2 separate regions of the Homo sapiens genome follow, and region 2 is linked to region 1. The links come from fine-mapping of genetic effects on gene expression. Tissue or cell type: whole blood. Region 1 holds a variant in brackets; the other region holds the start of a gene. All regions are shown on one strand. Distances are from middle to middle.

Region 1 (2,923 bases):
AAGTAAGGACTTCCTAGTGCCATTTTTTAAATTGGCTTCTTTTTTTTTTTTTTTTTTTTGTAAATCCTTTGTTTCTTTTTCCTCTCTTGCCTTCTTTGTGGTTTGATGACTTTCTATATTGGTATGCTTTGGATCTTTTCTCTTTTGTGTATCTGTTATAGGCGTTTGTTCTGTGTTTACCCTGAGGCTTACAGAAAATATACTTACAATAGGCCATTTTAAGTTGATGACACCTTAATTTTTTTTATTATTATACTTTAAGTTCTAGGGTACATGTGCACAACGTGCAGGTTTGATTCATAGGTATACATGTACCATGTTGGTTTGCTGCACCCATCAACTCATCATTTACATTGGGTATTTCTCCTAATGCTATCCTTCCCCCAGTTCCCCACCCCCAGATAGGCCCAGGTGTGTGATGTTCCCCACCTTGTGTCCAAGTGTTCTCATTGTTCAGTTCCCACCTATGAGTGAGAACATGTGGTGTTTGGTTTTCTGTCCTTCTGATAGTTTGCTGAGAATGATGGTTTCCAGCTTCATGTCCCTGCAAAGGACGTGAACTCATCCTTTTTTATGGCTGCATAGTATTCCATGGTGTATATGTGCCACATTTTCTTAATCCAGTCTATCATTGATGGACATTTGGGTTGGTTCCAAGTCTTTGCTATTGTGAATAATGCTGCCATAAACATACGTGTGTGTATCTTTATAGTAGCATGATTTGTAATCCTTTGGGTATATACCCAGTAATGGGATTGCTGGGTCAAATGATAATCCTAGTTCTAGATCCTTGAGGAATCACCACACTGTCTTCCACAATGATTGAACTAATTTATACACCCACAAACAGTGTAAAAGCATTCCTATTTCTCCACATCCTCTCCAGCATCTGTTATTTCCTGACTTTTTAATGATTGCCATTCTAGCTGGCGTGAGATGGTATCTCATTGTGGTTTTCATTTGCATTTCTCTAATGACCAGTGATGATGAGCATTTTTTCATGTATCTGTTGGCTGCATAGATGTCTTCTTTTGAGAAGTGTCTGTTCATATCCTTTGCCCGCTTTTTGATGGGGTTTTTTTTTCTTTTAAATTTGTTTGAGTTCTTTGTAGATTCTGGATATTAGCCCTTTGTCAGATGGGTAGATTGCAAAAATTTTCTCCCATTCTGTAGGTTGCCTGTTCACTCTGAGGGTAGTTTCTTTTGCCACGCAGAAGCTCTTTAGTTTAATTAGATCCCATTTGTCTATTTTGGCTTTCGTTGCCATTGCTTTTGGTATTTAAGTCATGAAGTCCTTGCCCATGCCTATGGATGACACCTTAATTTTTATCACATACACAAAGTCTACACTTTTATTTTTCCTCCTCACACATTTTGTATTTTTGATGTCATACTTTGTCTTTTTATAATTTGCATTCCTTAAAAATTATTGTAGCTTTAGTTCTTTTAACAGTTTAACCTTTTTATTAGAAATATAATTAATTGGCTGAGTGCAGTGGCTCACACCTGTAATCCCAGCACTTTGGGAGGCCGAGGTGGGTGGATCACAAGGTCAGGAGTTCAAGACGAGCCTGGCCAACATGGTGAAACCCCGTCTCTACTAAAAATACAAAAATTAGCCAGACGTGGTGGCACGTGCCTGTAGTCCCAACTACTCTGGAGGCTGAGGAAGGAGAATTGCTTGAACCCAGGAGGTGGAGGTTGCAGTGAGCTGAGATCACACCATTGCATTCCAGCCTGGGCACCAGAGTGAGACTTCATCTCAAAAAAAAAGAAAAA[G/AAAG]AAAAAGAAAAAAGAAATATAATTAATTTACCCAACCCCATTGTATTACTAGAGTATTTTGGATTTGACAATATACAGTCATATATCACTTTACAATGGGGATACATTCTGAGAAATGCATTATTAGGTGATTTTGTCATTGTATGAACATCATTGAGTGTATTTACACAACCCTAGATGGTATAATCTACTATACACCTAGTCTACATGGTATACTCTTTTGCTCTTAGGCTACAAACCTGTACAGCATGTTACTGTATGGAATACTATAGGCAGTTTGTGACACAATGATAAGTAATTGTGTATCTAAACATATCTAAATATATAAAATATACAGTAAAATTGCCGTATAAAATTGCATAGGGTACTTATTGTGAATGAAGCTTCCAGGACTGGAAGTTGCGCTGGATTAGTCAGTGAGTGAGTAGTGAGTGAATATAAGGGCTTAGAACATTACTGTACACTTTTATATGACTAACGGAGCAGTACATTTGTTTACACCAGCATCACCACAAACACAAGTAATGCTTTGTGTTACAGCGTTATAATGGACATCACCATCACTAGGCAATATGAGTTTTTCAGCTCCATTATAATTTTATGGGACCACTGTTGATGTCATTATGTAGCACATGACTATACTCTCTTATGTCTTCATGTTACTAATAGTGTCTTCTTCCTTCAGCATGAAAAACTCCCTTTAGCGTTTTTTTTGTAAAAGAGGTCTAATGGTGGCAAATGCTTAAACTTTTTGTTTGAGAAAGTCTTTATCACCCCCTTTTTTTAAAAGACTGAATTGCTGAGTATAGAGTTATTGGTTGATGGGGTTTTTTTTTTTCCTTTTAGGATGTTGAATGTATCATCTCACTCTCTTCTGACCTGCAAGGTTGCTCTTGAGAAATCCACTGATAGTCTTATGAGAAGGTTCTTTTGTATGTGATGATTTGCTTTTACTTTACTGCTTTCAACACTCTGTGTTTTAACTTTTTATAATTTTATTGTGATTGTCTTGGCATAGGTTTCTTTGGATTCATCTTATTTGGTATTGTTTGGGCTTCCTGTCTCTGGCTTTCTATCTTCTTACCCAGGCTTGGGAAGTTTTCTGCCATTACTTCTTTGGATGTGTTTTCTATCCCTTTCTCTT
Region 2 (2,923 bases), 67 kb before region 1:
TTTTAGCAACACAGACTAAGACACTATCAAAGAACAACTGAAAATTTAAAATGTCATTTACATAATATCAAGAAGTATATTTTTCCCCCATCCTTAGATTTATGGATAAATCTGACATAGGGTGATATGGTTTGGCTGTGTCCCTGCCCAAACCTCATCTTGAACTGTAGTTACCATAATCCCCAGGTGTTGTGGGAGGGACCCGGTGGGAGGTAACTGAATCATGGGGGTGGTTATTCCCATGCTGTTCTCTGATAGTGAGTGAGGTATCACAAGATCTGATGGTTTTCTAAGGGGCTTTTCCCTCCTTGCTCCTCACTTCTCCTTCCTGCAGCCCTGTGAAGAAGGAGGTTTGCTCCCGCTTCTGCCATGATTTTAAGTTTCCTGAAGTCTCCCCAGCCATGCTGAACTGTAAGTCAATTAAACGTCTTTCCTTTATAAATTACTCAGTCCCAGGTATGTCTTTATTAGCACTGTGAAAATGGACTATATAAGACTAGACCTGACAAAAGATCAAAACATTTGCTGAGTGAAATAACACCTAAATAAATGAAGAGGCTTACTTTAAGGGTCATTACTAAATATTGTTAACATGTAAATTATTCTTACATGGATCTATAGACGAAATGTAACCAATCACAATCCCAACTTTTTAAAGTGACAAGCTGATTTTAACATTCATATGAAAACCCAAGGGACTAGATGAGCCAGAACATTTTTGAAAAATAACAAAAAATTGGAGGCCAAACACGATCTGATTTTAAGACTCTTACGAATCTACAGGAATCAAGACAATGTGGTATTTTTGTAGAGAGAAATATAATAAATTGTCGGAACAGAATAGAAAGTCTAAGAATAGACCCACAACTGATGCTTTAGGGACAACTGATTTTAAACATAGGTGCAAAAGCTATTCAGTGAGAAAAAGAAAGCTCTCTAAACAAATGACACTATTCACATACAAAAAAATGACCTAAGATCCATACTTTGCACCACAGACAAAAATTAGCTCTAATTGGATCACAGACCTCAATATAAAACCTAAAATTCTAAAACTTGTGTCAGAAAACACAGAAGAGATCCTCTGTGGCCTTGGGTTAGGCAAATTCCTTGGACAGACAAAAAACAAACCCTAAGATCCGATCTGAGCCGCCGCACAACCCTGCTCTGGCCACTTAGCCTGAGGTCACTGCTCGGGTCCCGCCCCTCTCCCCGCCCGGGACCCTCCTGGCTCCGCCCCAATCCGCCCGCTCCGCTCCACCCCGCCCCGCTGCCTCGTCTCCATCCGGAAGAGCCGCCGGGGCAGGGAAGTTGAGGCGGTGCGCGGCCCGGCGTCGGTCGAGAGCGCAGGCCCGGCAGAGCCGCAGGCGCTAGGCCGCCCGACACAGCCCGCGCGTCCCCGCGGCCGGTGGCGCCTCGAGCGGCCACGTGCACGCGCGCACTCCGCCTCACCAGCCTTCTTGCGCCGGAGACGAACCCGCTGCCTGGCTGGAGCTCTCTGGGCCCTTCGGCCTCGGGAGCAACGCGTTCCCGGCGACTTCTGACACAGCCAGTAAGTGATAGCCGCCTCCTCCTTTCGCGGTTATGTTTTTCTCCAGTTCGTCCCAAGTCTCGTTCCCGTCTCATTACTTCAAAAACTATTCAACTCCGGGACCGGACAGGCACGGGAGCTGCCCGGGAGAAGAGCCCCAGAAGTCTCAGAGACTGCCAAGGTGTTGTGGGGCAGGGGCTGCGTGCAAAGACCCTGTGAATTAGAAAGTTTGGAAAGCATGCCTCCAAAACCGAGCGACTCCACGTTTGCCAGGCGCCCCTGGGGCAGCCGAGCGGCCCGGAGGCGCGAAATGGCGCGCCCCCGCAGTGAGAGGGGCGGAGGGAGTGGGGCGGGGCCGAGGGCGCGCGTCCCGCCAGCCCGCGCGGAGGGGGCGGGGCTCCCGGCAGGTGCAGGCGGGCGGGGCGGGGCTGCCGCGATTCCCGGAGACAGCTGGGGGATGCCAGTGCAGTTAGGCACTCTCCTGTCTTCTTTTCGACGCTTCGCTGTGGTCAAGAGGACAAAGTAAAGCAAATGATTTTATTTTGACCCCAAATATTCAATAAGAAAAGGAAAGAGAACTTGAAAGTTGTGAAATGACCCTTCTCAAAACAAAAAGTCCCTCCAGTGTCTATCTGGGTGGGTAGTAGGTACGTTTATTGATTTAGCAAACTGCTGATAACACAGTTGATTAGTCAGTTTTGCATAGATGTTGAAAGGGAATGAATAACGATGGTCCATATAACCATAGAAATGCTAGCCTAACTAGGCAAAATTTAATCTGACCTTAATTTGAACGTTGAATTCTGCTGCTGCCCTTTTCCTGCCTTGTGTGGAGCTGTTTTTCAAATTGCTAAATTTGTGGCTCTAAACTTAATATGCTTTAATAGAATCATAGTGATTCTCTTGTAGCCACTGTTGGGAGTCCAGATTTTTTTTTTTTTTTTTTTGGGCAAAGTCCACATTGTGGAGATATTCCTTCCCAAGTGCTTTTTCTGCTTTACACTTGGCTGAATTTATATTGCTTAACCAAAAACAAATTACCGTGGAGGCCGTAATTTATTTCCACTCATTGTTTTGGATATACATTTACTCATTCTTACTCTCACTCTGGCCTCCTATAGTGGTCAGGATTCTTGACCTAACTGCTATATGTACTTCTTAAACGTTTCACACCTTGCGGAATAGTAGGTTCTCAGAGAAAGCAAAATATAGCAAATAGCGTGTATAACACGTACTTAGGATGATAAACTGTGAACTTTATAGCAGTCTCCTTTAATATTCGTATTTGTAGAGTCCAGTACAATAAATGTTGGACAAATGAAGTAAGTCAAATTTAAGTACACCTCTTCTCCAGTCCTCAATCTCTTTCCAAACGAAATAAGTGTTTCTCTC

Evidence for each region. PIP is the estimated chance that this variant, and not a neighbour inherited with it, causes the effect.
Region 2: MCM9 starts here. The variant in region 1 is fine-mapped to the expression of MCM9 in whole blood (INTERVAL, PIP above 0.99).

What each region holds. Positions count from the first base shown.
Region 1 is chr6:118,866,736-118,869,658 of GRCh38, reverse strand. All of the region lies in intron 8 of MCM9 (minichromosome maintenance 9 homologous recombination repair factor), which reads left to right. Among named protein-coding and RNA genes, the nearest start is that of ASF1A, 26 kb to the left of the region's middle. The variant G/AAAG (reference allele first, on the strand shown) is at 1,780.
Region 2 is chr6:118,933,520-118,936,442 of GRCh38, reverse strand. It overlaps MCM9 (minichromosome maintenance 9 homologous recombination repair factor), which reads left to right and starts at 1,284. Exons shown (of 14, transcript NM_017696.3): 1 at 1,284-1,552. It overlaps LOC124901389 (a long non-coding RNA gene), which reads right to left and starts at 1,528. Exons shown (of 2, transcript XR_007059729.1): 1 at 1,453-1,528. RefSeq lists silencers at 1,106-1,535, 1,786-2,035.